Linked DNA regions of Homo sapiens: region 2 is linked to region 1. The links come from fine-mapping of genetic effects on gene expression. A gene starts in region 1. The other region holds a variant in brackets. All regions are shown on one strand. Distances are from middle to middle.

Region 1 (16,547 bases):
AACTGGCTTCCTAGAACATGTATACCTATTCACTATGGTATATAAGCTTTGGGTCTGGGGAGTAACAGCACAGAAATCTACCTGTCTTGTGGCTGCCCAAGACTATGCTTCTGTGTGTAAGTTCCCTCAGTCAATCAACCAATACTGACAAATTGGATTTGTCTGCCTCCTCCTTTGGCTCCTCAGCTCCTTCGGCATTTGGAGTTCACTTTGCATATACAGCCGTTTCACTGGACAGAGGACAACAAAGTAGAAGAGCATATGAGGTGGAGGCTATTGTGCTGACCATCTTATAAAATACAACCTGCCACAGAGGGAATGGGTTTTGGAACTAAACCAGATCGGAGAGAGCAAGCTGTAATGTCCTTTATGTCCTACCTTCAGACATCACACTCCATCATTTCTGCAATATCCTATTGGTTACAGGGGTCAAGTTACTGACACTTCAATGTGGGAAGAGACTGTCCAGGTGCATTAATACCAGAAGATGATATTGAGGGTCCACCTTGGAGGCTAGCTACCACATTGACTTTTGGCCAATAGGATCAAGTAACGACTGTGTGAACCTCTGGATTTTGAAGATAGCAATAAAAATTACCTTTTGGGGGAAAGTAGTTCATACTTCTTAGCTATTACTGGAATCCATGACTTCTCCAACTACCAGGGCTTGCCAGGCTGTACTTCCAGCAAATTATCAACCCTATTTGAAAAGTGAGACTGTGTGGTGCTATGATGTCAGGCTGCCTGAAGTAGAGACTTCCTGTCTCTACTTACCTTAGAGTTGTTGTGAGGATTAAATAACACATATAGAAGTCTTTTTTTTTTTTTTTTTTTTCAGAATCAGATCTCAGCCAGGCACGGCGTTTCACGCCTGTAATCCCAGCACTTTAGGAGGCTGAGGCAGGCGGATCACGAGGTCAGGAGATTGAGACCATCCTGGCCAACATGGTGAAACCCCATCTCTACTAAAAATACAAAAATTAGCTGGACGTGGTGGCATGTGCCTGTGATCCCAGCTACTCAGGAACCTGAGGCAGGAGAATCGCTTGAACCAGAGAGTCGGAGGTTGCAGTGAGCCCAGATCGCACCACTGCACTCCAGCCTGGTGACAGAGGGAGACTCTGTCTCAAAAAAAAAAAAAAAAAAAGACTCAGATCTCACCCTGTTGCTCAAACTAGAGAGCAGTGGCGTGATCACAGTTCACTGCAGCCTCGAACTCTTAGACTCAAGCAATCTTCCTACCTCAGCTTCTCGAGAAGCTGGGACTACAGGCTCAAGCCACTATGCCCAGCTACATGTAGAAGTCTTTAGAACAGTGCTTGGTACATAGTATGCACTCAATTTTGTAAGCTATTATCATCTATGACTTCTACAGAATCAACATTTTATGTTTCCTAAGAAGGAAGGTGATAGAGGCATAAATTAGAATGAACATGTATGTTTACTTGTTTTTTTGCTTCCGAAGTCACTTTAGTCCTATGTCACTTCTAGGCCGTCAGACCATTATTGCAACCCACAACTTTTATACCTCTTTTTCAACTCCACATTACCCACCTCATATATGCCACTTTATTGCGTTGATTTCTAGAGTGTCATTTAAGTATGTGTGTCTCTGTGTGTGTGTATAAAATTGGCATACACAAAAATAACCCTCAGTGCACAATGAGTTTTGACAAGTATATGCAGCTGTGTAATCACCACCATAATCAAGACATGGAACATATTCATCAACCCCAAAAGTTCCCTTGAGTCCTTTGGTGCCCTTCCCTCCACACCAGCCTTTATGCAACCACTAATCTGATTTATATTCCTATAGCTTTGCCTTTTCAAGAATGTCATGTAGCCAGGTGCGGTGGCTCACGCCTATAATCCCAGCACTTTGGGAGGCCAAGGTGGGCGGATCACGTGAGGCCAGGAGTTGAAGACCAGCCTGACCAACATGGCGAAACCCCATCTCTACTAAAAATACAAAATGAGCCAGGCATGGTGGCACATGCCTGTAATCCCAGCTACTCGGGAGGCTGAGGCAGGAGAATCGCTTGAGCTTGGGAGGCAGAGGTTGCCGTGAGCCGAGATTATGCCATTGCACTCCAGCCTGGGCGACAAGAGTGAAACTCCATCTCAAAAAAAAAAGAGAATGTCATATAAATAAAATCATATAGGATATGGCCTTTTACGTCTGACTTTTTTCACTTAGCGTATGTGTTTGAGATTCATCCGTGTTTTTGCATGTCTCAGTAATTTATTCCATGTCTCAGTAGTTTCTTTTTATAGCTGAATAGTTTTCCACTGTATGGATGTACCACAGTTTATCTCTTCAGCAGTTGATGGACACTTGAGCTGCTTCCAGTTTTTGGTTATTACGAATAAAGCTGCCGTAAACATTTGCATACAGGTCTTTTAATAGAAATGTGTTTTTATTATTCTTGGGTAAATATATAGCAGTGGAGCTGCTGAATTGCTGGGTTGTATGGTAAATTTATTCTTAACTGTATACGAGACTGTAAAACTATTTTCCAAAGTGACTGTACCATTTTGCATCCCCACCAGCAATATATGATGAGTGCTAATTTTAATACAGTATTATTTGCAACCTAAGTGAATTTCCCCATTAACTCCTCCCTACCAGTCCCCAGGAAGCTCACCATACTGATAGTAATAGTGATACTTCATGATCTTGGCTTATTGCAACCTCTGCCTCCCGGGTGCAAGCCATCCTCCCACCTCAGCCTCCCGAGTAGCTGGGATTACAGGCCTGTGCCACCATGCCCAGCTAATTTTTGTATTTTTTGTAGAGACAGGGTTTCACCATGTTGTCCAGGGTAGTCTTGATCTCCTGAGCTCAAGTGATCCATCCTTTTGGCCTCCCAAAGTGCTGGGATTGCAGACATGAGCCACTGCACTTGGCCCTATTCTGACTTTTAATAACATAGATTTAATTTGGCCAGTTTTGAACTTAATAAAGATGAAATGATACAGATTGTACTCATTTTATGTCTAGCTTCCTCTTCTCCTTTTTTTTTTTTTTTTTTTTTTTTTTTTTAAGAGACAGGGTCTCGCTGTGTCGCCCAGGCTGGAGTGCAGTGGTGCAATCATAGCTCACTGCAGCCTTGACCTCCTGGCCTCAAGGATCCTCTCACCTTGATCTCTCAGGTAGCTAGGACTACAGGTGTGCACCACTGTGCCTAGCTAATTTGTGTCTGGCTTCTTTAGCTATGCATTGTTGGGAAGAGGTCACCTATGTTGTTCACACAGCAGTAGGCCATTTATTTTTGTGCTTTATAATATCTGTTTATACAAACCTCTGTTGATGGATATTCGAGTTGTTTACAGTTTGGAACTAGTAAAAATAAATACTGCTATGAACTTCATAATAACACCAAATTGGAAACAATGCAAACATCCATCAATAAGAGAATGGATAATCAAACTGTAAGTATATTTATATGAGGAAATACTAATGAGTAATAAAAAAAGACCAAACTACTGATATATGTGACATCATGGATAAATCTCAAAAACATTGTGTTAATTGAAAAAAGCCAAACACTAAAGAATATATAAAGTATGAAGTCCAAGAGCAGACAAAGCTAATCTGTAGTGACAAAAATCAGAAAGTAAAGTCCAGGTGCAGTGTGGCTCATGCCTGTAATCCCAGCACTTTGAGAGGCTGAGCCAGGCGGATCATTTGAGAGGCCGAGGCGGGTGGATCATTCGAGACCAGCCTGACTAACATGGTGAAACCCTGTCTCCACTAAAAATACAAAACAAATTAGCTGGACATGGTGGCGCATGCCCATATTCACAGCTACTTGGGAGGATGAGGCAGGAGAATTGCTTGAATCACGAGGTGGAGGTTGCAGTGAGCCAAGATCGTGCCACTGCACTCCAGCCTGGGCGACAGAGTGAGACTCCATCTCAAAAAAAAAAAAAAATCAGTAAGTAACTTCCAGTGATGAGGGAAATGGATTAAAAAGGAGCATAAGTCAAGGAAACTTTCTGGGGTGATGATAAAAATGTTTTATCTCTTGATTTGGGTGTGGCAGTTACATGGATGTGTACAAGTGTCAAAATCCATTGAGCTGAACACTTACTATCTGTGCATTCGATTGTATATCAATTATAACTCAATAAAAATTAAATGTAAGGGCTGGGTGTCATAGCTCACTCCTGTAATCCCAGCACTTTGGGAGGCCGAGGTGGGTGAATTGCTTGAGCCCAGGAGTTTGAGACCAGCCTGGGCAACATGGCAAGACCACATCTCAACAAAAAAATACAAAAATTAGCCAGGTGTGGTGGTGCGTGCCTGTAGTCCCAGCTACTTGGAGGCCTGAGGTAGGAAGATGGCTTGAGCCAGGGAGATTGAGGCTGCAGTGAGTCGAGATCACGCCACTGCACTCCAGCCTGTCTCCGAAAAAAAAAAACAAAAAGTAAATAAGTATAGAAAAATGCTGCTTGGTCCTAAAAATGCTCCTATGAACTATACCTGATTTTTGGAACACGCATAGTTGGGTATATAGTTAGGAGTAGAATTGCTGGGTCAGAAGGTGCATGGGAATCCTGGCTCTGTCACTTAACAGCTGTATGACATTAGGCAAGTACCCAGAATCTCTAGTTTCTTTATCCGTACCAAGGAGCTAATATCGCCTTGATGGGTGCAAACCCATGAAGACTACTTTCGTTAATTAACAAAAGTATGTAGAGCTGAGAGACATTTTCTCTAAAGCCATAGATTTTTAGAAAATTTGTTGCTCAAATTATCAGTAAGAATGGAATATATCACTCTTACCTGGAGGATCAGTTACTTTGATGCAGAAGAGCAGCCTCAATTTCTAACGCAGGTGCAGAGCTTCAGATAAGGGGTTTCCAGACACAACATTCCACATTTATCTTGGCATCATGGTTTCCAAGGAAACAGGATCTTGTTAGCTGGGGCCTGATGATAATCCCTTTACACATAGCCTGGTGTGTTTGGGGGCTATCAAAACACTGCTTCTTTAAAAATTTATCTACATTTCTTTCCCCCAAATCCTGGAATAACTCACTGTCTTCCTGTGTTTTGTGACATGCTCCATGATTCTTTTGGTGTGCAGTTTCCCTTGCAGCAGCAAGTTAATAAACTTAACTTTGTCTGACTACAGGTGGTCTTTATCAGATGGGCTTTATCTTGGAGATTACTGATAACGTACACAAAATGTGTTCATACTGCCTGGCACCTAACAGGCATTTAAGCAATGATAAAATTATTATTTTTATTATTCATGTGTTAATTCAATAAATGTTTGTTTGACATCCAGTATTTGCAAGGCACAGATTTACTGCTATGAGAGATGCTCACTGCAACCTCTGCCTCCCTGGCTTAAGCTACACTCCTGCCTCAGCCTCCCGAGTAGCTGGGACTACAGGCTCAGGCCACTATGCCCAGCTAATTTTTGTATTTTTGGTAGAGATAGGGTTTTGCCATTTTGCCCAGGCTGGTCTCGAACTCCTGAGCTCAAGCAATGATCAGCCTGCCTCAGCCTCCCAAAGTGCTGGAATTCCAGTTGTGAGCCACCGCGCCCAGCCTAAAAACCACTTTTATTTTACATGGAGAAAGAAAACAATATTTTTAATTCCTAAAAGAAAAATATCTTTACTGAACTTCACTTTAAATAGTGTCAAATGTAAATGAAAAAAATCATCAGTACTATTATATAGGTAAAAAAGTGCAATTTACATGACTTGCTTAAGATTTGACATAAAACTACAGATTCTAAGAAACGGTAAGGTTTTATAATAATAACCAAAACAGGCTGGGTGCGGTGGCTCACGCCTGTAATCCCAACACTTTGGGAAGCCGAGGCGGGTGGATCACCTGAGGTCAGGAGTTCGAGACCAGCCTGGCCAACATGGTCAAACCCCATCTCTACTAAAAATACAAAAAGTACCCGGGCGTGGTGGTACACGCCTGTAATCCCAGCTACTCGGGAGGCTGAGGCAGGAGAATCGCTTGAACCCAGGAGGCGGAGGTTGCATTGAGCCGAGATTGCGCCATTGCACTCCAGCCTGGGCAACAGAGCAAGATTCTGTCTCAAAAATAAAATAAAATAAAATAACCAAAATAAGAGTCCCCAAATGTCATCCGTCTCTTTCTAGAGACAGGGAAAAAAAATGCTCTCATAAATTCTCCAACGAAAAATAGAGATAGTCACCCTTAAAAAATCCTAAGGCTGGTGGGTGGATTGCTTGAGCCCAGGAGTTTGAGACCAGCCTGGACAACATGGCCAAACCCCAACACTACAAAAAATATAAAAATTAGCTGGGCGTGGTGGCGCACGCCTGTAATCCTAGCTACTCAGAGGTTAGGTGGTAGGACCTCCTGAGCCCAGGAGAAGGAGGATGCAGTGAGCAGAGATCGCGCCACTGCACTCCAACCTGCGTGACAGAGCGGGACCCTGTCTCAAAAAAAATAAAATAAAGAAAAAATCCTAAGGCCATATACAGGCTCATTCACTTTGGGTCTCCTTTCATCCAGGCAAGCAGCTTTCTGTCTTTGCATTTTCCAAAGACTACAAAGCAGGCTGGGGTGGGGTGGGGTGGGGTGTAGAACACAGGAAACGCAGCCAGTTCCCCTTCACTTCTCACTATCTTGATCTCCTCCCAAACCAAAATCCTATGTCTTTCCTTTTAACATAGGCTTACAAAAATGCAGTTTTCTGTGGGAACATTGAGGTCATGCATTCCAAATTACTTAAGGGAACGATTTTTAAATTTTAGGAATCTAGTTCTCCAAGATATCCCGGCTTGGGATATAGATGAACGAGCTATTTGGGAGAGATTTAGACGAGAATGAATTTTAGAGAAGTAGCGAGGTGAGGAGAGAGTCAGCTTAGCGTTTGGGTTTTGCAGTCAAATTTCAGCAAGGCGAACTAACCTCGCTGGTCTTAATTTTCTCATCGGTAAGAGGGAAAATAATAATGCTTACTTTGATGAATTACTTTACTTCAACATTTAAAAAACCGACTCTCCGTTATCTATTCTAATGATAAAAATATAGATAGAGCATCGTCCCCTGCTGTGAAAAATCTTATGAACAAGTGAATTGCGGTGAGGATTCACATAGTATGTGCTCAATAAACATTATTTTATTGTTTAGATTAGAAGAGGGGTGGAGGGAGAAATGAAAGTGGTTTGGAAACCCCAAACACTACCAAAGCCCTGGGGATGGAAGTAGAGAGGAATTTCGGGTTACGATTTGGTTCCGGGTCTGAGTTTCAACGTTGAATTCTCCCATATTTGGGCCTGAATTCTCAGAACAGAATAGGATGTAAGGGCTGAGATCATCTGGTACAGTTTTATGCAAATCGAAAATTCTTGCCTCTTGTCACTGTGCCCTGGCGAGAAACAACACCTCCACCCAAGCTCATCCAATCTCAGCCCCAACTAGGTGACGTCATCTCCCCGCCCTGCATCCCCAAGCCTCGGGGAGTCCTGTCTCTAAGCTACAGTCCCAGCTCCAGTCCCAGCTCCAGTCCCAGCGGCGCCTGCGCACTTTGGACCGGGGCGGGGAGGACGCGTGCGCGCCGCGTGAGGGCGGGGCTAGTGCGCACGCAGCCTTAGCTCCTTCCCCGCCCTTGCTCTTCCCAGTTTCTCCGTCAGCCTGCGGGTCCCGGCTGGCGGCTGCTTCCGGTAGGAGAGCGGTGTAGAGCGAGCAGGTCTCAGCTCCTCGTCATGTCATACGGTCCCTTAGACATGTACCGGAACCCGGGGCCCTCGGGGCCCCAGCTCCGGGACTTCAGCAGCATCATCCAGACGTGCAGCGGCAACATCCAGCGGATCAGCCAAGCCAGTGAGCCGGGGTACCGAGCTGGGGGGCGGGAGCTGTCCCGGGGACAGGCCTGGGTGAGGCTGCCGGGACGCAGGGCCCGGCTGGGGCTACGGCCGAGGCCACACCTGGGGCTGTCTCGGGCTGTCCACCCTGGGGGCGGTGGGCTGCCATCCCCCAATCTGTCAGGCCCGGGTTGCCCGAGGGTCCCCGGCCCCAGCTGAAGCTTGAGCTGCTTCTCTGGAGTTCTGCCCCCACGGTGCTGGGACCAAAACAGCCGACTTGACAGCCCGAGGGTGGGAAGGGGAGTGTGTGTCACCTCGAGAGCTGTGAGTGCGTTGACTTGGCGCAGTGGTCAGCCGAGTTTCTCCTGTCACCCACCTTCCTCCCCACCCACCTCGCTTTCCTCTTAGACCAGTTTGGATGGGGTTGTTTACTGATTTAGCCTTTAGGTTTACATTCTGCTCAGCCCCTGGCTCCTCGGAAATCAGCAACTTTCAATTAAGGGAAGTGGAGAGTGCATGTGTTTGGGTGACTTCATACACAGTTCTTCCTGTAATGAATTCGGAAATCAGACACAATGACTGGTATTTGAAAGGTGGGATGACTTCATTTTAATAAAGAGAATTCACCAACAGCATTTCAATTTACATTATTTTGTCTTTTGTAACAAATAATTGGGGTGTATTTTTGGATTTCAGGCAGATGAGGCTTTTGTTTTCCTTCCCTACTTAGCTGCTCTTGAACAAATCTGGTACACAGGGAAGCTAAGACACTTAGCCACAACCACATAGCAAGTAAGGCATGGTAGAGTTGTTGGTGGAATTCAGAATGCTATTGCTTGTCTTAAAACTCCCTCCTCCCCATTAGGGTCTGAGTGAAACTGTAGCTGAATGAGTCAAATACAGGGTGTTTCTTGTGCTTGAAAATCATCTTGGAGCCTTATAAACAGGAGATCAGCAGCAGCTTTACTTGGAAAGAATGGTGGTCATCATCCTTGTTGTTTATTATTGTTTTGTGAGCTTGGCGTACTCTGTTAATAGGTAGAACTAGTTAGTCCTGAATTACAATTATATTCTATATTTTAAAGAGTGTCACTTTGCTTTCGTTTTTAAACTTTTAAAAATTTTTCTTTTTTGTAGAGATGAAGTCTTGCTATGTTGGCCAGGCTGGTCTCAAACCCCTGGGCACAAGCACTTCTCCCACTTTAGCCTCCCAAAGTGCTGGGATTACAGGCGTGAGCCACTGTGCCTAGCCTAATTTTTTTGATTTAAAATATTTTTAATTTATTTTTTCGAGACAGAGTCTACTTCTGTCACCCAGGCAGAATGCAGTGATCTGAGTGAAGTGGTACAATCCTAGCTCACTATAACCTTGAATTCCTGATCAGCTTGCTGAGTAGCAAGGACTACAAGGATGCATCTACCGTGCCAGGCTAATTTTTAAATTTTTTGTAGGGATGGGGTCTCACTATGTTGCCCAGGCTCACTTTGCTTTTAAATCTAAATGTATATTGTAGAATTTGAGAAGTAGAAAGTTTCTGATCAAAAGGGATTGAGACTCTGGAAGTGAAAGGAAGAATATGTGGCCTGTTAAAATCCAGAAGTAAAAAAAATTAATATGACCACTGGTTAGAAAGTATAGTACTGTTTGTTCCAGTTTCCTTTTGTGAAGGAGCTGTAATACAGGTTAGATCAGAAAATTCTAGTTCAAGGCTGAAATTTTCTTGTTGAAGCTAAATCTAATTTTAATATCTATTTGCGAAATATTCATTCAACATGTATCCATCTATCCATCTTCGTGTGTATTTTATATATATATAAAACCAGAATACTCCCAAAGGTAGATCCGACATACAGTTTTAAATTTAAATTTAAATTTTTATTTTGAGACAGGGTCTCACTCTGTCACCCAGGCTGGTATGCAGTGGCATGATCTCAGCTCACTGCAGCCTCAACCTCCCTGGCTCAAGCAGTCCTCCTGCCTCAGCCCTACAAGTAGCTGGGACTACAGGTGTGCACCACCACGCCCGGCTAATTTTTATATTTTTTGTAGAGATGGAGTTTCACCATGTTGTCCAGTCTGGTCTTGAACTCCTGTGCTCAAGTGATCCACCCACCTTGGCCTCCGAATAGGCCAGGATTACAGGCATGAATCATCATGCCTGGCCTTCAACATATATTTATTTGAGTATGTAGTAAGTATAAGAACTGGCATGGATCTTTCAACAGGGAACCTGCAGAGTTCATAACCAAAATATAAAGTTGAAAGGGATTGGTGCTATAGAAGACATATAAATAACATGCAGGTATTCTGGGAAGAGAGAGATTGTTTTTAATTGAGAAGGCATTATGGCATTTGAGTTATGTCTGGAAAGAGGATGGAAAGATTTGGACCTTCGAAGGTAAAGAGGAGAAGAGCATTCCAGGAGGGAATAAAATGAACAGGCATCATAGTGGGGAAGCATAGAGTATATCTAGAAGAGTAATTTAATTTGGCTAGAGTGGTGGATTCCAGAAAGTAGTGGGAAAAAAGGATTGAAAGGTAAATTGTGGCCCAAACATGAAGGATGTTAAATGCTAAGCTAAGGGGCTTGGATTTAGTTATTTAGGAAAGTGCGAATTGAATTCAAAGGGAGAGACTGGAATCAGAGATACCAGTTAGGGCTGTGAAAATGAAAAGAAAGGAAAGGATAGGAGAGGTTTCCTTGGTGATAGAATTGGTAAGATTTAGCTATTGATTGGGCATTGGGCCTCAGGGGATCATTTAAGTCAACTGTTAGTAATATTAATAGCTAACATTTGAGTACATACTGTGTTCCAGGCAGTATGAAAAGTGCTTTACATACATTATCTTATTTTATAACAACTCTGAAGCACCAGTATCATTTCCATGTTATGTATTAGGAAACAAACTAAGAAAGGTTAAATAGTTGCCCTGCTAACAAATGACAATATCTGAATTTGAAACTAGGTCTCTTATGACCAGCAATTTGTCTTTTTATTACTTTTTATTAATATTACAGTTCTGGGCTGTGCTCAGTGGCTCACACCTGTAATCCCAGCACTTTAGGAGGCCAAAGAGGGAGGATTACTTGAGGCCAGGAGTTTGACACTAGCCTGGACAACATAGTGAGACCCCATCTCTACAAAAAAAAAGTTAAAAATTAGCCAGACATGGTAGCATGTGCCTGTAGTCCTAGCTACTCAGGAGGCTGAGGCTGGAGAATCTCTTGAGCCCAGGAGTTGGAGGCTGCAGTGAGCTGTGATTATGCCACTGTACTGCAGCCTGGGTGGCAGATCAATACTTTGTCTCTAAATAAATAAATTAAAAATAAATAAATCAATAACAGTGCTATAGCAGTTAACACTTCAGGTTTACAAGTATGCAAATAACTTGTTTTTTCACTCTCCAGAGGACACTCTGTGGGGGAAATACCTGAAGCCGTGGTGCTTTCTCTTCTCGTGGTGTGTTCATCTCCTCTGCCAGATTGTTAGCTCCTTTGAGTCAAGGGACATGACTTATTCATCTTTATATTTCCAGTACTTATCTCAGTCCCAAACATATGAAAGATTCATTGATCCACTATGCAACAAATATTCCTGGAGCACCTGCTGTGTGCTGGGGTGAAGCAGAACAAGAGATAAAATCCCTCCCCTGATTGTGTGTATATGTGTGTTTCTGTGTGCGGGGGGAGTATGTATACACACATACGTACATACACATATAAATAATGTCAAGTAATAATAAATGCTATGAAGAAAAAGCAGGGTAAGTGGGTAGAGAGTCAGGGAAGAGGGAGGGTGGGTGCATTATTTTAGTTGATCAAGGAAGGCATCTCTGAGGAGCTGACATTTGAGTGAGTAGACATGTGAATGAAATGAGCAAGAGCTGTGTGAGTAGCTGGGAAAGGCATTCTAGGTAGAGGGCAAGAGCAAGGACTTTGATGTGTTCAAAGAAGAGCAAGGAGGCTAGTTTGGCTGGAGTACCGTTAGAAAAGGGAGGCAGAATAGGAAAAGAGGCCAGAGAGGTAACCAGGGATCACATTATATAGGATCTTGATGCATAATAAATTGTATCAAATTGATTTGAATGAATGAGGCATTTCTACCATTTTGGAACTCTTCCTGCCTCTTTCCCCTTGTACTGTGTAGTACATACCATATCCTATGACCCTAGGCAGTGTGAGTTGAGATTCTTCCAGGCCGGACACGGTGACTCACGCCTGTAATCCCAGCACTTTGGGAGGCTGAGGCAGGCGGATCACAAGGTCAGGAGTTTGAGACCAGCCTGGCCAATATGGTGAAACCCTGTCTTTACTAAAAATACAAAAAAATTAGCCAGGCGTGATGGTGCACGCCTGTAATCCCAGCTACTTGGGAGGCTGAGGCAGGAGAATTGCTTGAATCCGGGAGGCGGAGGTTGCGGTGAGCCGAGATTGCGCCACTGCACTCTGGCCTGGATGACAGAGCGAGACTCAGTCTCAAAAAAAAAAGAAAAAAGAAAGAAATTCTTCCTTTGGAATTGTTTGGTGAGAAATGGGAAATCTGAAATTGATGGGATGACGTTGCATCTACTCAGTTATCAAGCTAGTGCCTATCCCCAAACCTCTCCAAGAGGCCAGCACACCCAAATATACCCTTAGAATATGAGCTCTCAGACATATATATTACCCACACACCCATACAGCCCTGCAAGGACTTGTACCCATTAAAAGTCTGAGAGCATAGTTATTCTTTTTTCTAAACTGTTCAGCCACAGATGTGGGGTTGGAATTGCTGAGCACATCAGCCTGAGATAAGGCAGCTCACTGCGTGGGTTGTTACAGGTACAGCTAAGGTTGACTGCCTGGTACAAGTGGTGATTATCAGTATGTGTTGGGTACAGAAGAAAAATATTTGACTTACTGTGGAACAAAGTGTCTGGGCAAGTATTGCTGAGGCAGATATAGCTGAAAACCTATTAGCCTCAAAGTTAACTCTGAAGGGATTAAAGAACAGCATTTCTGACTGGGCGAGGTGTCTCACGCCTGTAATCCCAGCACTTTGGGAGGCCGAGGCGATCGGATCACCTGAGGTCAGGCATTCGAGACCAGCCTGGCCAACATGGCGAAACCCTGCCTCTACTAAAAATCAAAAAGTAAGCCGGGTGTGATGGCAGGCGACTGTAGTCCTAGCTGCTCGGGAGGCTGAGGTAGGAGAATCGCCTGAACTGGGGAGGTGCAGGTTGCAGTAAACCAAGACCAAGATCGCTCCACTGCACTCCAGCCTGGGCAACAGAGCGAGATTCCATCTCAGGAAAAAAAAAAAAAAAAGAACAGCATTTCTGTTCTTTATGTTGCTAATTGATGTGATCTTGTTTACTAACAAAATAAGAAGAGTGGAGGTCTCACTCTGTCACCCAGGCTGGAATGCAGTGTGCAATCGTAGTCCACTGTAACCTCAAACTCTTGGGCTTTAGCGATCCTCTTACTTGAGTCTCCCAAATAGCTAGGACTACAGGCATATGCCACTGCGCCTGGCAAGTTGTAAAAGTTTTTTAGAGACGGGGGTCTCGCTGTGTTGCCCAGGCTGGTCTTGAATTCCTGACCTCAAACCATCCTCCCACCTCAGTCTCCCAAAGCAAGAAGAGTTGAACATTTAAAATTGATTATTATGAAATCCTTGGGGTTCCACTTTCAAAGTTATTTTCATGTTTGCCCCTTATTTTTTATGTTTCTTTGCTATCCTCTTAAGTATTCATCAGCTCAACATCTGTATTTCAACAGCATATTCATAGTGTCTCTGATTATGGTCTTGCCCCATTCTAGTTTATACTGATGGTGCTATCAGCACTATGTCTAAAGTCCTGTTTTTATTATACTGCTCACTTCCTCAAGAGCCTAAAGTGGCTCTCTGTTGTCTATTGAATCAGATGGTTTTTTTTGTTTTTGTTTTTTTTTGTTTTTTTTTGAGCCAAGTCTCACTCTGTCGCCCAGGCTGGAGTGCCATGGCGCAATCTTGGCTCACTGTAACATCCACCTCCTGGGTTCAAGCAGTTCTCCTGCCTCAGCCTCCCGAGTTGCTGGGATTACAGGACCTGCCACCACGCCCAGCTAATTTTTGTATTTTTATAGAGACAGGGTTTCACCATGTTAGCCAGGCTGGTCTCGAACTCCTGACCTCAGATGATCCACCTGCCTCGGCCTCCGAAAGTGCTGGGATTACAGGCATGAGCCACCGTGCCTGGCCTGAATCAGATCTTAATATTTCACCTTGCTTTCACTCCCTGCGATCTTAACCCAAATTAGCCATATTTTCTACTCTTCCTTACTCTTTGCTAGGAAGGCTATTTTCTTTATGTTTCTCAACTCTATCTTTCAGTTTATATTTTGCTCATTTGGTTCCTCCTTTTTTTTTTTAGAGAAAGAGAGTTTCGCTGTTGTTAACAGCCCAGGCTGCAATGCAGTGGTGCGATCTCGGCTCACCACAACCTCTGCCTCCCAGGTTCAAGCGATCCTCCAGCCTCAGCCTCCCGAGTAGCTGGGATTACAGGCGTGTACCACCACGCCCGGCTAATTTTGTATTTTTAGTAGACACAGGGTTTCTCCATGTTGGTCAGGCTAGTCTTGAACTCCTGACCTCAGGTGATCCGCCCGCCTTGGCCTCCCAAAGTGCTGGGATTACAAGCATGAGTCACTGCGTCCGCCCTTTGGTTCCTCCTTTTTTTAGTATCTTTTCTCTCCCTACCTCATTGGCTATCTAAATTATACAAATCCTCTCAGTTGTGCATAAGTCCTGCTGATAGCAATTAAGTTTTTCTTTGCTTGTTTTTTTTTTTTTTTTTTGAGACGGAGTCTTGCTCTGTTTCCCAGGCTGGAGTGCAGTGGGGCGATCAGGCTCATTGCAACTTCCGCCTCCCAGATTCAAGCAATTCTCCTGCCTCAGCCTCCCCAGTAGCTGGGATTACAGGCGTGCACCACATGCCCGACTAATTTTTGTATTTTTAGTAGAGACAGGGTTTCACCATGTTGGCCAGGCTGGTCTTGAACTCCTGACCTCAGGTGATCTGCCTGCCTTGCCCTCCCAGAGTGCTGGGATTACAGGCGCCCAGCCTTCCTTTGCTTTTGAAAGACAAAGTGAAGTCAGAAAGATCATGGACTCTCCGGGGTCAGCAGATCTGTGACTGAATCCCTCCCCTTCCATGTATTAACCTCGAGCAGGTTATTTTCCCTGCCGTGTGTAACCCCATTTATAAAATGAGTGAAATTATTAAAAGGGGATGTTTGAGGCTGGGCACAGTGGCTCACACCTGTAATCCCAGCACTTGGGGAGGCTGAGGCGAGTGGATCTCTTGAGCTCAGAAATTTGAGACCAGCCTGGGCAACTTGGCGAAACCCTGGCTCTACCAAAAATACAAAAATTAGCTGGGTGTGGTGGCACACACCTGTAGTCCCAGCTACTTGGGAGGCTGAGATGGGCAAATCGCTGATCGCTTGAGCCTGGGAAGCAGAGGTAGCAGTGAGCCGAGATCACGTCACTGCACTCCAGTCTGGGTGACAGAGTGAGACCCTGTCTCAAAAAAAAAAAGGGGGGATGTTTGAAAGTGTCTGGTATACTGCCTGCCTGGCACATAGCAGGCGTTCAATAAATGGTGACATTATTATTATTTTTATTATTTTGAGATGGAGTCTTGCTCTGTCACTCAGGCTGGAGTACAGTGGCGCAATCTCAGCTCACTGCAACCTCTGCCTCCCGGGGTTAAGCAATTCTCATGCCTCAGCCTCCTGAGTAGCTGGGATTACAGGCTCATGCCACCACGCCCAGCTAATTTTTGTATTTTTAGTAGAGACAGGGTTTCACCATGTTGACCAAGCTGGTCTCGAACTCCTGACGTCAGGCGATTTGCCCACTGCAGCCTCCCAAAGTGCTGGGATTATAGGTGTGAGCCACCACGACCAGCCCCAGTGGTGACATTATTAATACTTGTTGAATCCCTTGCCCTGCAATAGTTTAATAGTTAGGTAGGCAGGCTCAGGAGTCATATTGCCAGGATTTGAATCCTAGATCTGCTTCTTACTAGCTGTGTAAACACATTGCTTTACCTATTTCTCAGTTTCCTTATTGTTAAAATGGAGTTAATAATACCTATTTCATAGGGTTGTGATGATTAAATGAGATAATTCATCTACAGTCCCTGCTACATAGTAAGTGCTTAAGAAATGTTAGCTCTCATTTTGGTGTATTTCCTTTGAATTTATAATACAAGCAATTTTCCCTCACAGTTTAGCACGCACTTATATTATATATTCTTTAATTAATTCAAGCTTTTTGATATTGTCACCCCAAGCAGAGAGATCACTGTTAGTTTTGTGGAGACCATGCATTATACATTTGTCTTTAGTCACAGTGCCTGGAACAACAATGCATATATAGTTGGCATTCAATATGTACTTAATTGATTTTATTACTGCTAAGTACATTTTTCTTGGTCTTGAGTTTGATAATAATAGCTATCTTTAATTGAGTGCTTTTATGTGCCATTGTTCTAAATTTAGCTTCGTATCATCTCATTTCATCCTCACAACAACCATATGAAGATTCTCTTATTCTCATTTTTAAGGCAAAGAAACTAAGGCATAGAGGAGTGGAGCCTTTTACTCAAGATCACTTTGCTTGGAAGTAGCGGGACCACGACAAGCATAGGCATAAGCAGTGGTTTTTTGTTTTTTGTTGTTTTGAGAAAGGGTCTTGCTCTGTCACCC
Region 2 (16,547 bases), 610 kb before region 1:
CACTCATGGCCAGATGCTAGAACTCCTGTTTTCAGAGGCAGAAAAATGCCTTTCCAAGGCAGAAACAGACTTTTGGAAAGGAGACCACATCCAGCCTCATCATTTTACAATGGGAAAACTGAGGTCCAAGGCTGAGTGACTTGCCAGAGTTTCCAGAGTCAGTGGAATGACAGAAATATCACACCTGGAAGGGACCACAAAGATCAACTGATGGGTAGGGAGGCGTGACTGGTCCAAGGACAGAGGGAGGTAGGAAGAGAAGCCAGGTTTTCCTGACTTCTAGACTGATATTGTTGCCATGACACCATCTCTGCTCTCCAGCTGCCCAGGGTCCCGGGCACAGCACTTGGGTGGTGACAAAGCAGGCCAGGCCAAGCTGACCTCATTAGCACTAGAGATACCAGGCCTGCAGGGACAAACTTCTGACTGCCTAGAGTGGGGTCTCTGCAGTCATGCTGTCATCCCACCAGCAGCCACTGACACTCAAAGTGTGTCTGCCAGCCCTGAATGCCCTAATGTAATGCCAGGTGTGGTGGGCAGGTGAGGGGATCGGGGACAGGAGGCAATTTATAGATTGCACTTGTGAGGTCTCCTCCTGGTCTCACACAGTCAAATGACATCACTGTCACTTCAGCTTCTTACAGCAAATCAGACGACATTTCATGACTCAATTGGTGTGGTCAAATTGAGAGTCTTAACCATTTCACAGGTGAGGGAGACCTGCAGAAAAAGGCCTCAGCTATTCAAGGTCATGCATTTATGTCAGAATCAGTACACATGGTTCCCCTTGTCCAGTCCTTGATTTCTCTCCAGGAAGCTAACTGCCATCAAGGTATAGGTGCTGATGGCTTAGTTCCATGTAAGGCTCTGCTACTGTGACCAGCTTGGCACAAGAGCCCTGCACCAGGAACCCAGCTCCTGGATCTGTCAAATTAGAGGCACCACTTCCCTCCCGCTGCATGTCCCAGAGCCTGCCTCACACCAGCCCGGCAGCACCGCTCAGCTCCTGCATGTCCTTGGGAGAGCTGGAAGGTTTCCTGCCAAATTCCCAAACCCAAATCTCAGGCAGAGGGGACAGCAGAGTCCCAGGACCTCATGCCTTCCACAGCCAGCTGGGGGCAAGCTGAAAATGCAAAGGCAGTTGTCAAAGTCCCCCTGAACACCACTTTCAGGGACTTCTGGGCAATGTAGGCTCCAGTAAGCTCCCCCAATCACTCAGCAGAACAGAGTGCTCAGGCCTAGCAGGGAGACCAATACTCTGAGAGCAAATAAGTTGTCTGTTTCCTTCTCCCCAAAAGAAGGTTTCAAAGTCTCTTCAGGCCTGAACATCCCTAGGCTCCCCCATCTACCTCATCTACTTGATTGAGCAGCAGGCCAGACAGCACCCTGAGACACAGCCAGGCAGCGACCTGGGGGTGAGCTGGGGTCAGACCAAGCCTCAACCTCCTCTACTCTCCCTCCACTTCCAAAACAGACTTCAGAAATTTCCAGGGCCCCTTGTCCCACAGATTCTATAAAGTATGGCATTCCTGGGCCGGAAATTGACTCAGGGGCTCCTAACTAGCCTGGACAAGCAAAGCTGACAGATAACATTCTGGAGATGAAGGAAAGGTGGGAATATGGGGATCCCCTGTGTTCCACCACACTTGTAAGTTTCCTGTGCCCAGGTCTCCACTATGCTTAAACTCCTCAAGCAGGCCAAGTAGAAATATACTCCATCCTGGAACACGCTCCAGTGAAGCCTGTCATAAATTGCACTGGTTGCTGTTGACAGAGCAGAATGTGCCACTCGCCAGAAGACACTCCTTTCTGTCTCACACACAGCGGGGTGCCTGGCTCCCCTGGGGGTCTGGCCCAGCCAGAGGAGACTTGCCAGTCGTGGAAGCCTTACTGAAGGGACCTAGGATCAGAGGCATCCCATTCTCTAATCCTGCTCTCTTCTGTGCACAGTGCTGGCTCCAATCTTGGGAAGCCTCAGATCACAGATCAGAAGCCACAGAACTGGAGCCTGAGAAGGACCAAGGTGGCAGGATGGAGACTGCCTACTTTATGGGGGTAGTTCAGATCCTTACTCCTGGACAGCCTCAAATGGTGCGAGATGAGGCAAGAAGCTCACCAGTCTGGTGGCGGCCGCAGCATCGGAGCAAACGGGACTTACCTATCTTCATGAGGCAGGCCAGAAGGATCCAGAGGGAGATCTCGAAGGGGGTGCGCACGTGTGTGTAGTCGATGCCCAGGACTGGAAAGGCCTTGCGCGGCTTCATGCCATGATCAGTGACGGAATGATTAACAGGGCGGCTCTCTGGGGTGACCTCCGGTGGAGCGGTGGTGACATCCCCAATCGAGCGTTCTCGTGGTGGCTCTGAGCTTCGAATGGTGCTGGCAGTTGGGCTGAGCTGGAGGCCATGGCTCCTGAGAACAGGCAGCAGCCCCACCAAAGCAACCACCACGAGTAAGGAAGGGAAGATCCGATGTGGAGAGAGGCCACAGATGCCAGACCGCAGAACCATGGTGCTGCTTCCAGAGCCAGCCTCGACCTTACCCAAATGAGAGTAAAACCGGGCACATAGGTAGCAAAGGGTCAGCAAGTGGGAAGAGAGACTGGCGTAGTCTCTAGGAAAAGTTCATGTTTTAGAGAGGCATTTCCATGGAAGCAATTTTCTGGGGGTGGAGGGAGGCTGGGTTTGCAATCTGGAACTCCAAAGTGGGGAAAGGGGGCAAGGACCCAGGAACGACCACGAAAGGAGACCAAAAGGTCTGGAACTCCGGGCCTGGGAAGGGGGAGGACGGATGTGGGAAACTGAGCCCTAGGGATAGAGGAAGGGGCAGGATAGGGATAGTGCAAAGGAAAGGAAGAAGGAAGGCTGGGACCTTTGGCTGAGGAAAGTGACTGAGGAGCTGGGACTCTGGGCTGTGGGCTAAAGGAAGGGGTAGGGAGCCTGAGCTAAAGGAAGGGGACCGAAGGGGGTGAGAGCCAGTCCAGGAAAAGGAGAGAGGGGGCTGGGAGCCCAGGCTGAGAAGGAGTGAAACCGGGAAGCGGCCGGGAGCTTCTCCACCCAGAGAGGGGCAGGGGTCCAGGCGCGCCGGGCTGAGATTCCGGGGAAATGGAAAGAGGCGGAAGGCAGGCGGCCTGGCGGGAAGGCGCCTCGGCGCGGGCTGGGGGCGGCTCGCGGTGGGCCAGCAGCAACACGCCCCTCCTCGCGGCCCTGGCGCGACGCGGCGCTCCGCCCCGGCCCAGCTGCAGCTCCTCCTGGTCCAGCTCCAGAACTAACCCTAGCCCCGGCCCCGGCGGCAGCAGACTGAAGCCTAGCTGAGCCCGGCGCTGTCACTTATAGGCACCAGCGAGCAGCCGGTGCGGCGGGCTAGAGAGACCGTCGGCACCCGCCCAGCGCAGCGGCCCCTGTCGCCGAGGGAAAGAAGTATCGCGTAGGAAGAGGAAGGAGAGTCAGAGATGACAAAAAAAAAAAAAAAAAAAAGTCCTGAATATACAGAGAACCTCACTAACGCGAGTAAAATGCCGACTACTTACAAAACGATTTCACGTCCACATCTGCAGTCTCATAAGGGCTTTCGAATAATCCTGTGAAGAATGTATTATTAGTTTATGTATTTAGTTACCGTGTGACCTTGAGCAAGTTACTTAACCTGTTTCACAACTTTCTCATCTGTTAAGTAGAGACAGTAATAGTGACTATGTCAGAGGGATGATGTAATGACTGAGACAATCCGTGTAAACTATTTGGAATGCACCCTGGCACATTATTACAATTCCACTTTTACAGATGAGGAAACAGGTGAAGAGAGTCCCCTGGCTACTATGCAAGTAGTTGTATTGCTTACTAGGGCTGCCGTAACAAAGTATCACCCCAAACTGGGTGGCTGCAACAACAGAAATTGATTGTCTCACAGTTCTGGAGGCTGGAGGTCGGATCTAGGTGTTGGCAGGGTTGGTTTCAGCTGAGAGCTATGAGGGAGAATCTGTCCCATGCCTTTCTCCTACCTTCCAGTGGTTTGTTAGGACTATCTGGTATTCCATGGAGTTCTCCTGGTGTCTCTGTCTCTGCGTCCAGATTCCCCGCCCACACTTTATTTTTATTTTTATTTTTTTTGAGATAGAGTCTGGCTCTTGTTGCCCAGGCTGGAGTGCGGTGGCGCCATCTCAGCTCAATGCAACCTCTGCCTCCTGGATTCAAGCGATTCTCCTGCCTCAGCCTCCAGAGTAGCTGGGATTACTGGCACCCACCACCACGTCCAGCTAATTTTTGTATTTTTAGTAGAGATGGGGTTTCACCATGTTGGTCAGGCTGGTCTCGAACTCCTGACCTCAGGTGATCCACCCGCCTCGGCCTCCCAAAGTGCTGGGATTACAGGGGTAAGCCACAACCCCCAGCCAGATTTCCCCTTTTTATAAGGACACCAGTCATTGGATTAGAAATCCAACGTAATTACCTCATCTTAACCTGAACATCTTCAAAGACTGCATCCTAATTAGTCCATCTTCATAGGCACTGGGCATTAGGACTTCAACTTCTTTTGCCGGGACACAATTCAACCCACAACAGTGGCATGCTTTAAGTAGTGGAACTTAAATTTGAACCTATAGTTTGGTTGAAATTGGTGAGGTTCAAGGGATCATGGCTGTACAATGGAATCACTGGAAAGCTTTTTTAAAATACCATTGTCTAGGCCGGGCGTAGTGGCTGACGCCTGTAATCCCAGCACTTTGGGAGGCCGAGGCGGGCGGATCACGAGGTCAGGAGATCGAGACCACGGTGAAACCCGGTCTCTACTAAAAATACAAAAAATTAGCCGGGCGCAGTGGCGGGCGCCTGTAGTCCCAGCTACTCGGGAGGCTGAGGCAGGAGAATGGCGTGAACCCGGAAGGCGGAGCTTGCAGTGAGCGGAGATCGCGCCACAGCACTCCCGCCTGGGCGACAGAACGAGACTCCGTCTCAAAAAAAAAAAAAAAAAAAAAAAATTAGCCGGGCGTGGTGGCACATGCCTGTAATCCCAGCTAGTCAGGAGGCTGAGGCAAGAGAATCACTTGAACCCAGGAGGCGGAGGTTGCAGTAAGTCAAGATTGCACCACTGTACTCCAGCCTGGGCAACAGAGCGAGACTCTGTCTCAAAAAAAAATAAATAAATAAAAATAAATACCATTGTCTGATAAAATTAGCTGTGCTTGGTAGTCCTAGCTGCTTGGGAGGCTGAGGCAGGAGTATCATTTGAACCTAGGAGTTTGAGACTACAGTGAACTATGATCCACCACAGCACTCTAGCCTGGGCAACAAAGGGAGACCCTGTCAATCATAGTAATCATCATCATCATCATCTTTTGTAAAATATCATTTTCGGGGACCCACCGTCAGAGATTTAGATTCAATTACTTCAGGGTAGTGCCAAAGTATTTTTTTCAAAGGCTCTGATATACAACTAGGGTTGGGAGGTATAGAAATCACTGAAATGCTGTCCCTGTTTTGCAGAAGAGTACATTAAGGCCAAAACAGTCAAAGTGTCTAGCTCAAGGTCACATCACAAGTACTTGAGATTCAATTTAGTTTAACAAATGTTTACTGGGCCTCTTGACAGGGCTTTGTGCTGGGCTCTGGCAACACAGAGATAAGCCAGAGGGAGGAAGGAGGTGGTAGGAATTGGGAGGGGGCATAAAGTGGACATAATGAGGGCTTCTAGAATGCTGGTAATGTTCTATTTCTTTACTGGGTGATAGCTACAAAGGTTACAGCGACGTAGTTGTTTCGTGATAACTCACTGAAGACTCAAGATGTGTGCACCTTTTTCTAGGTATGCTATCCTTCCATGGAAAAATATATTAAAATAATAATAAGCTAGCAGCAGTGGCTCATGCCTGTAATCCCCGCAACTCAGGAGCCTGAGATGGGAGTATCAGTTGAGGCCAGGAGTTTAAGACCAACCTAGGCAACATAGGGAGACCCTGTCTTTAAAAAAAATAAGTAAAATAAAATAATAATATCCAGGTGCAGTGGCATGCACCTGTAGTCCCAGCTACTTGGGAGGCTGAGGCAGAAGAATCACTTGAACCCAGGAATTTGAGGCTGTAATGCACTATGATTGTGCTTGTGAAATAGCCACTGCACTCCAGCCTGGGAAACATAGTGAGACCCATCTCTAAAAATTAATTAGGCCAGGCACAGTGGTTCACGCCTGTAATTCCAGCACTGTGGGAGGCTGAGGCAGGCAGATCACTTGAGGTCAGGAGTTCAAGACCAGCCTGGCTAACATGGCAAAACCCTGTCTCTACCAAAAAATACAAAAATTAGCTGGGCGTGGTGGAGCATACCTATAGTCCCAGCTACTTGGGAGGCTGAGGTGGGAGAATCCCCTGAACCCAGGAGACGGAGGTTGCAGTGAGCTGAGATTGTGCCACTGCACTCCACCCTGGGTGACAGAGGGAGACTCTGTCTCAAAATAAATAAATGAATATAAAAATAAAATAATTAATAAAGTGATATGATAGTAACTGAAGGTGGCAACATTAAACTGAGTTCTCTCTCTCTCTCTCTTTTTTTATAATCCCATGCCTAAACTGAGTTCTCTGTACCTCACATTCTCCAGGCACAAATTCCAGCCACCTGGGAAATGACAAAAGAGACTTCAGAGAAGGGCAGGGGACTTGTGTCATCTGGGAGCAGATGAAAGGAGAACATCAGCTATAATGAAAGTAACCAAAGAGCATTTCGAGCAAGGATCAGAATAATAACAATAATGCCTCACAATTGTTCAGCCCTTTAGAGTTCACAACCAAGTGCCCCAGGTTTATCAATGATCCAAATGCTAGGCTGGGTGCGGTGGCTCATGCCTGTAACCCCAGCACTTTGGGAGGTCGAGGCAGGTGGATCACCTGAGGTCAAGAGTTTGTGACCAGCCTGGCCAACACAGCGAAACCCCGTATCTACTAAAAATGCAAAAATTAGCTGGGTGTGGTGGCATGTGCCTGTAGTCCCAGCTACTTGGGAGGCTGAGGCACGAGAATCACTTGAACCCAGGAGGCAGAGCTTGCAGTGAGCTGAGATCACACCACTGCACTCCAGCCTGGGTGACAGAGTGAGACCCTGTCTCAGAAAAAACAGTACCTATTATTCTATTTTTTTCTTTTGAGACAGAGTTTCACTCTTGTCACCCAGGCTGGAGTGCAGTGGCGATCTTGGCTCACTTGCAATCTCCACCTCTCAGGTTCAAGTGATTCTCCTGCCTCAGCCTCCCGAGTACCTGGGATTACAAGCGGCTGCTACCACACCCAGCTAATTTTTATATTTTTGGTAGAGATGGGGTTTCACCACGTTGACCAGGCTGGTCAGGAACTCCTGACTTCAGGTAATCCACCTGCCTTGGCCTCCCAAAGTGCTAGGATTACAGGCGTGAGTCACCGCATCTGGCCAAAGAGTAGCTATTATTCTCATTCCCATTTTACAGGTGAAAAGACAAAGGCCCAGAGACATAAAGCTATTTGCCCAAGGTCACACATCTATTAAGATGCAGATCCATGCCTGGCACAGTGGCTTACACCTGTAATCCCAGCACTTTAGGAGGCCGAGCCGGGCAGATCATTTGAAGTCAGAGGTTCAAGACCAGCCTGGGCAACATGGTGAAACCCCATCTCTACTGAAAATACAAAAATTAGCTGGGCGTGGTGGCAGGCACCTGTAATCCCAGCTACTCAGGAGGTTGAGGCAGGAGAATCACTTGAACCTGGGAGGCAGAGGTTGCAGTGAGCCAATAAAATTAAATTAAAATTTAAAAAAAGAAGCAGATCCAAGACTTAAGTCAGGTTTCTAACACCTAAGTCCAGCACCCTTTTAAAACATCACAGGTTCAGTGTAAAAAGAAGAAAAGAGGGAAAGGATGGGGCTGGTGGAGTGACTTTCCACAGGTGCCCTGGGGCCAGAAGCCCAAGACCTACTGTTCTTTCCAGTCTTGAAGGCAACGTTCACTGGTGTGCTCCCCACTCTCTAATTCTCCCTCACTCAGGCCTCAGTGAGTCTTTGGGTGCCAGTCTGGGACGTGGTAGATCCCAGGACAACCAGGAAATGCCAGCCCTGAGATCCTCCACGGCCTGGAGAAGGTTATAACAACAGAACAATATCAGGAAACAGGCCTTGGGAGAAACCACATGGGAGAGCCGATGGCCAAGGCCCAGCCTGGGCAGGCAGTGTAGAATAATGGATAGTTAAATGCTGGGACTGCCGAACATGGGTAGCCACATGGTCTCCTTTCAGTGCTCTGGCACCACCGCTCACTAGTCATGAGACCCTGGGCAAATCAGTGCCTGTTCTACAGCTTCTTCCTCCATAAGGGGGGACAACAATAGTGTCAACCTCATGGGGCTCTCATGAAGATATTAGCCAATGTATGCGAAGCATTTACCACTGCCCCCAGCAAGTACCACATATATTTACCATCATTCTATTTATTTACATGCACCGAGGACCTCAAGAGTAGACTTT[T/C]GATGTTGGGAACCACATGAAGTTCTGCCTTCAGTCACAGAGAAAATTGACAGGCTGGAAAACAGACCCTCACATCCGTGAGATGGGTCCCACCATCAGACCAGCTGCTATGAATTTAATATTTGTAAATAAATCACATTGATGTGTATTGTATGTTAAAAGCCTTATCTTCTTCTTCCTCTTCTTTTTTTTTTTTTTTTTTTTTGAGACTGAGTCTCGCTCTGTCGACCTGGCTGTAGTTCAGTGGTGCAATCTCAGCTCACTGCAAGCTCCGCCTCCCGGGTTCACGCCATTCTCCTGCCTCAGCCTCCCGAGTAGCTGGGACTACAGGCACCTGCCACCACGCCCGGCTAATTTTTTGTATTTTTAGTAGAGATGGGGTTTCACCGTGTTAGCCAGGATAGTCTCGATCTCCTGACCTCGTGATCCGCCCGCTTCGGCCTTAAAAGCCTTGTCTTCTTAAAAATAATCAGTCAAGGCCAGGCGCGGTGGCTCACGCCTGTAATCCCAGCACTTTGGGAGGCTGAGGTGGGCGGATCACGAGGTCAGGAGATCAAGACCATTCTGGCTAACACGGTGAAACCCCGTCTCTACTAAAAATACATAAAATTAGCCGGGCGTGGTGGCGGGCGCCTGTAGTCCCAGCTACTCGGGAGGCTGAGGCAGGAGAATGGCGTGAACCCGGGAGGCGGAGCTTGCAGTGAGCTGAGATCGCGCCACTGCACTCCAGCCTGGGCGACAGAGCAAGACTCTCATCTCAAAAAAGAAAAAAAAAAATCAGTTAAAATACATAGCAATATTTGTAACCATGTTTGAGCAAGTCATTTTTTGTTTTTTGTTTTTTGTTTTTTTAAGATGGAGTTTCACTCTTGTTGCCCAGGCTGCAGTGCAATGGCGCGATCTCAGCTCACTACAACCTCTGCCTCCTGGGTTCAAGCGATTCTGCTGCCTCAGCCTCCCGAGTAGCTGGGATTACAGGCGCCTGCCACCATGCCCAGTTAATTTTTTGTATTTTTTGTAGACACAGGGTTTCACCATGTTGGCCAGGCTGGTCTCGAACTCTTGACCTCAGGTGATCCACCTGCTTCGGCCTCTAAAAGTGCTGGGATTACAGGCGTGAGCTACCACACCCGGCCAAGTCCTCATTTTTTAACCATTCCAGGCCCACACTGCTTTTGACTCGGAGAGGCCAGGTCTCTGCAGACCCTTCCCCTGCAGATCCAGGACAGCCTCAGGAAGCCTGGACCCTGGGTGGCATCTCCCCCTGCTTAAGCCATGTCTGCTCCCCAATCCCCTCCTTGAATCCTTTCACTAAAAGTGCCTGGAGTTTTATGGCACAAAATGCATGGCCCTAGGAAAGAATCTGCTCAGCCCCTATTAGCTGCGCATTATGAGCAAGTCACACCTTGTTTCTGTCTCTCGCTGTGTTCATGTATATGAAAGCTGGGTGGAGTCACATTACTTGCTTTGTAAGGTTTATTGTAAGGATGAAAAGGCCACTGTATGTCAAGCATAGTTCCTGGTACACAGTCAGCACGCAGTGACTGGGTTCATTTCCTTCTTTTGTTTTTTTTTTTTTTTGAGACAGAGTCTTGCTGTCACCTAGGCTAGAGTACAATGGTGCAATCATAGCTCACAGCAACCTCAAACTCCTGGGCTCAACCGATCCTCCAGCCTCGCCCTCCCGAGCAGCTTGGACTACAGGTACATGCCACCACACCTGACTAATTTTTAAAAATATTTTTGGTAGGGATAGGGTCTTACTATATTGCCCAGGCTGGTCTCAAACCCCTGGTCTTGATTGATTCTCTTGCCTGGGCCTCCCAAAGTATTGGGATTACAGGGGTAAGCCATTGTACTCAGCCGCTCCTTCTTTCATCATAATGTCACAGCCCAGCAAAGCCTTCTTCCAGTCTCCCCGGCACTCACTTCACCACTGCCTCCTTCTATTTCTCAAACACTGGCAGACACACTTCTGCCTCAGGGTCTTTGCACTTGCTATTCCTTCTGCCTGGAACACTCTTCCCCAGATATCCACATGGCTGGTTACCTGACCTCCTTCAAGCCTTTCTGCGAATCTCGCTTCCTGACATGGCCTACTATGTTATAATCCTATGTAATAGTGACACTTCCCCTGCCTGGCCACCACCACTACCACCCAGCCCCTTCCCCTGCTCCTTTTTTCTTCTTTGTATAGCATGTTTCACCTTCTCACATACAGTATAATTCTCCTATTTGTTACTTTTATTCTTTTTTTTTTTTTTTTGAGACAGAGTCTTGCTCTGTCACCCAGGCTGGAGTGCAATGGCATGATCTCGGCTCACTGCAACCTCCACCTGTTGGGTTCAAGCAATTCTCCTGCTTCAGCCTCCTGAGTAGCTGGGATTATAGGCGTGCGCCACCATGCCCAGCTAATTTTTTTTTTTTTTTTTTTGAGACGGAGTTTTGCTCTTGTTGCCCAGGCTGGAGTGCAATGGCGCAATCTTGGCTCACTGCAACCTCCGCCTCCTGGGTTCAAGTGATTCTCCCGCCTCAGCCTCCCTAGTAGCTGGGATTACAGGCACCCGCCACCATGCCCAGATAATTTTTTTTTATTTTTAATAAAGACGGGGTTTCACCATGGCCAGGCTGGTCTCGAACTCCTGACCTCAGGCAATCCACCTGCCTCGGCCTCCCAAAGTGCTGGGATTACAGGCATGAGCCACTGCACCCGGCCTAATTTTTGTATTTTTAGTGGAGACGGGGTTTCACCATGTTGGTCAGGCTGGTCTCGAACTCCTGACCTCGTGATCCACCCGCCTCTGCCTCCCAAAGTGCCAGGATTACAGGTGTGAGCCACCGCGCCCGGCCTATTACCTTTTTTTTTTTTTTTTTTTTTTACTGCATTTTTCTCCCTTCAGAATGTGAGCTCAGCTAGGGCAGGGACCACGTCTATCTCATCCATCACTGTTTCTCCACCATGTAGAACAATGCCCAGTGCATATTGGTACTCAATAAATATTTGCTGAGTGAATGAATCACAGAATGCATTATTTGCACATGAGAAAACCAAGACTCCCAGAGGAGAATTGCTTGTCTGAGGCCATAGAGCTGGGAAGAAGAGGAGCCAGGTTTGGATGCAGGTCTGCCTAACTCTGAAGTCCAGGCTTTTCCCAGTTCTCCAGGCTGATAGCTACCATGAAAAAGCATGTACATGTTGGGTAACTAGAAGAGAGTTCGGAGGTTGGTAAGGAGTTGGAATTTAGGATCCAGCGAATTGCCTTTAAGCTAAGTTCATAATTTTACAATAAACATTTAGTGAGTTCCTACTATGTGCAACTCCCTGTGCTTTCTGCTGGAGGAAAATCAATAATGGATTTGATAAACACCTATCGGCAACCTTGACACCCTAATGTTCACTGACTGGATGTCCCACAGGCACCTCCATCAACTTCACCCACCATCTTCCACTAAACTTGCCCCCATTCTACACTGTCAGAATCCTGTGTGTGTGTGTGTGTGTGTGTGTGTGTGTACTGGAAAAGTTAGGATTTAGCAGATCTGAGGGAACGGGTCCGGGATTGACTTTTTTTTTTTTTTTTTTGAGACGGAGTTTTGCTCTTGTCTCCCAGCTGCAGTGGCACAATCTCGGCTCACTGCTCACTGCAACTTCCGCCTCTTGGGTTCAAGGGCTTCTCCTGTCTCAGCCTCCCGCGTAGCTGGGATTACAACAAGCACCTGCCACCACGCTCAGCTAATTTTTTTGTATTTTTAGTAGAGATGGGGTTTCACCATGTTGATCAGGCTGGTCTTGAACTTCTGACCTCAGGTGATCTGCCCATCTCGGCCTCCCAAAGTGCTGGGATTACAGGCGTGAGCCACCACCCTCAGCCTACACAGCTTTCAGGAAGAGCTGTCTGAGCCATGTTCATCCCCTGTTTAGACAGGCACATACCCCATCCCAGCATGGCACTCAAAGTCCTGCACACGATTTGGCCCACAAACCTTTTTTTCCCCTAATTATTTGTAAGAAAATTTAAAAGTATAAAGGTAATATAGCAAACATCCAAATTCAGAATTATCAGCTGTAACAGTTTGTTATATTTACTTTCAATAATATATGTATATTTTGGCCAGACACAGTAGCTCACTCCAGTAATCCCAGCACCTTAGAAGGCTGAGGTGGGAGGATCACTTGAGGCCAGGAGTTCAAGACCAGCCTAGGCAACATAGGGAGAATCTGTGTCTACAAAATAATTTATGTATTTATTTATTTGTTGTTGTTGGTGGTGGTGGTGGTGTTTTGAGAAGGTCTCACTCTCTCGCCCAGGCTAGAGTGTAGTGGTGTGATTATAGCTCACTGTAGCCTCAAACTCCTGGACTCTAGCCATCCTCCCACCCCAGCTTCCTGAGTAACTAAGACTACAGGTGCATGCCACCATGCCCAGCTAATTTTCTTATTTTTATTTTTAGTAGAGATGAGGTCTTGCTATGTTGCCCAGGCTGATCTTAAGCTCCTGCACTCAGGCAATCCTCCTGCCTCAGCCTCCCAAAGTGCTGAGATTACAGGCATGAGCCACTGTGCCTGGCAAAATAATTTCAAAATTAGCCAGGCATGGCGGTATGCACCTGTAGTCTCTACTACTTGGGAAGCTGAGGCGGGAGGATCACTTAGAGCCCAGAAGTTCAAGGTTACAGTGAGCTATGATCATGCCACTGCACTCCAGCTTGGGCAACATAGCAGGACTCTATCTCCTAAAAAAACTGGCCAGGTGCTGTGGCTCACGCCTGTAATCCCAGCACTTTGGGAGGCCAAGGAAGACAGATCACCTGAGGTCAGGAGTTCAAGACCAGTTTGGCCAACATGCTGAAACTCCATCTCTACTAAAAATACAAAAATTAGCTAGGCGTGGTGGTGCTTGCCTGTAGTCCCAGCTACTCGGGAGGCTGAGACATGAGAATTGCTTGAACCTGGGAGGTGGAGGTTGCAGTGAGCTGAGATCGCACAACTGCACTCCAGCCTGGGTGTCAGAGTGAGACTCCATCACAAAAAGAAAAACAAACCGAAAAACAAACAAAAAACTGCCCTATATGTGTGTGTGTGTACGTTTTTGATGTGTTTTACAGATATCTGTACAATTTTTATCAAATTTTAAAGTCTTTTAAACTATCAGTTACACTTTTCTCCCTTCCTGCTGCCCCAGGCAACATCTATCATAAGTATAATGTGTTATCTTAACACTTTAACACACATCTCTTCATCCCCCACCCACTCCCAGCACTGCCAAATGCTTAAGAGAGTTGTCTACATTGCCTGCATTGTTTTTCTCTCCCATTGTCTCCAACTGATCCGTGGGCTTGCCCTCTCATATGCTGTCCCTAATCTGCTCTTGGCCAGGTGCAGTGGCTCATGCCGGTAATCCCAGCACTTTGGGACACTGAGGTGGGAGGATCGCTTGAGCCCAGGAGTTTGAGGCCAGCCTAGGCAAATAGGGAGACTCCTATCTCTAAAAAAAAAAAAAAAAAAAAAAAAAAATATATATATATATATATATATATAAAATAAATAAAATAGGCCAGGTGCAGTGGCTCATGCCTGTAATCCCAGCACTTTGGAAAGCCAGGATGGGCGGATCACCTGAAGTCAGGAGCTCGAGACCAGCCTGGCCAACATAGTGAAACCCCGTCTCTACTAAAAATACAAAAATTAGCTGGATGTGGTGGCAGGCACCTGTAATCCCAGCTACTCTGGAGGCTGAGGCATGAGAATCGCTTGAATCCAGGAGGCGGAGATTGCAGTGAACCAAGATCGTGCCACTGCACTCCAGCCTGGGTGACAGAGTGAGACTCTGTCTCAATAAATAAATAAATACATAAATATATAAATACATAAATAAATAGCTGCCCTTGTCAATGTTGCCAGTGACCCTCCATGTTGTTCTATCATATGGTCATTTCTCGATCCTCATCTTTCTTTCCCCATCAGCAGACTTCAACATATATAATCACTTGCTCCTTCTGAGAACACTTTCTTCAAATAGCTTATGAGACCCCGCAACCTTCTGGCTTTCCTCCCACTTCATTGGCTGTTCCTTCTCAATTTCCCTTTGTTGATTCCTCCTCCTTCTCTCCTTTTTCCCCCTCTGCCACAACCTCTAAATACTGAGGGCCCCAGGGCTTGGTTCTTGCCTTTTCACTGCTCTGTCTACATTCTTTTCTCTGATGACCTCATCTATTCTCATGATTTCAAGCCCCATCTATATGAGGACAACTCATAGATTTCTATCTCTAGCCCAGTTCCCTACTGTAAACTCCAGACTCCTGCATCCAACTGAACATTCAACATTTTTACCTGGTCGTGCAACAGGCATCTCAAAATCAGCATGTCCAAAACTGAACTCCAGACCTTTCCAACCCCTCCCCAAACCTGCTTCTCCCACTGTCTTCCCCATCCAAGAGATAGCCTCTCCATCTTCCCACTTACTCTGGCCAAAAACTTGAGTCATCCTTGGCTCCTTTCTGTCATATCAATCCTCCACAAATAGTGTCAATTCAATCTTCAAAATATTTCCAGAATCCATCCATTTCTGACCACCTCCATTGCCCACTCTGGTCCAAGCAGTGCCATTTTCCCCACCCAGATTATTGTTTCAACAAAGCAGCCAGAAGGATCCCTTTAAAAGCCTAAGTCAGATGGTGTCATCCCCTGCCAGACCCCCACCTCGGGGTCCTTATTATGACCTACGAAGCCCCACCCAGTCTACTCCCACCTCTCTCTCTGGCCTCCTCTCCTTTATTCCTTCCTCTTCCCTTTTCTCTCCACGTTAACCACCCTGGCTTCCTTCCTATTTATTCCTTAAATACTCCAGGTTTACCCCTTTCAGAGCCTTTGAGCTTACTGTTTCCCCCAGATAGCTACATGGTTTCCTCCTTCACTTCCTTGCTATCTTTGCACAAATGTCTCTCAGTGAGGCATTCCCTGACCAGTCTATTTTTTTTTTGAGATGGAGTCTCGCTCTGTTGCCTAGGTTGGAGTGCAGTGGCTTAACCTTGGCTCACTGCAACCTCCACCTCCCAGATTCAAGCGATTCTCCTGCCTCAGCCTCCCGAGTAGCCAGGATTATAGGCGTGCGCCACCATGCCCGGCTAATTTTTATATTTTTAGTAGAGACAGGAGTTTCACCATGTTGGCCAAGCCTGGTCTCGAACTCCCAACCTCAGGTGATCCACCCGCCTCGGCCTCCCAAAGTGGTGGGATTACAGGCGTGAGCCACCGTGCCCGGCTGTACTGTATATTTCTATTGCCTGTGTTGACCCACTAGACTGTAAGCTCCTCAATGGCAGAAATTTGAGGCAGTAGAGCATAATGATTAATAGGGCTAACTTGGATCCAAACTGTATGGATTCGAATGCTGTCTCTACCACTATCATTTCTTTTCTTTTCTTTCTTTCTTTTTTTTTTTTTTGAGAGGTCTCACTCTATTGCCCAGGCTGGGCAGTGGCACAATCATGGCTCAGTGCATCCTTGACCTCCTGGGTTCAAGCAATCCTCCTGCCTCAGCCACCCGAATTGCTGGTACTACAGGCCTGGATAATTTTGTATTTTTAGTGGAAACGGGGTTTCACCATGTTGGCCAGGCTGGTCTCAAACTCCTGACCTTAGGTGATCCACCTGCCTCGGCCTTCCAAAGTGCTGGGATTACAGGCGTGAGCCACCACGCCCAGCCTTAATGTTTTATTTTTTGTAGAGATGAGACCTTGTTATGTTGCCCAGGCTGGCCTAAAACTCCTGAGCTCAAGCAGTCTTCCTTCCTCGACCTCCCAAAGTGCTGAGATTACAGGCATGAGCCACTGTCTCCAGCCTCTACCACTGTCTAGTCATGTGACCTTTGGCAAGTTATTTAACTTCACTGCACCCCAGTGTCTTAATCTAAAAGATGGGGTAAGGGGGTTGGGCGTGGTGGCTCATGTCTGTAATCCTAGCACTTTGGGAGGCTGAGGCGGGAGGATTGCTTGAGCTCAGAAGTTCGAGACCAGCCTGGGCAACATGGTGAAACCCCATATCTACCAAAATATGAAAAAAAA

The links.
Region 2: its variant is fine-mapped to the expression of STX12 in whole blood (TOPMed, PIP 0.98).

The regions. Positions count from the first base shown.
Region 1 is chr1:27,765,598-27,782,144 of GRCh38, forward strand. It overlaps STX12 (syntaxin 12), which reads left to right and starts at 7,622. Exons shown (of 9, transcript NM_177424.3): 1 at 7,622-7,828. The coding sequence starts at 7,711. RefSeq lists enhancers at 7,342-7,491, 7,458-7,958, 7,612-7,761, 7,959-8,459 and a silencer at 7,872-8,081.
Region 2 is chr1:27,151,825-27,168,371 of GRCh38, forward strand. LOC102723760 (a long non-coding RNA gene) reads left to right here and starts at 5,737. Exons shown (of 3, transcript XR_426674.4): 1 at 5,737-5,802; 2 at 6,595-6,700; 3 at 8,465-8,644. SLC9A1 (solute carrier family 9 member A1) reads right to left here and starts at 3,301. Exons shown (of 12, transcript NM_003047.5): 1 at 2,159-3,301. The coding sequence starts at 2,510. RefSeq lists enhancers at 540-589, 4,196-4,695 and a silencer at 3,021-3,250. The variant T/C (reference allele first, on the strand shown) is at 8,484.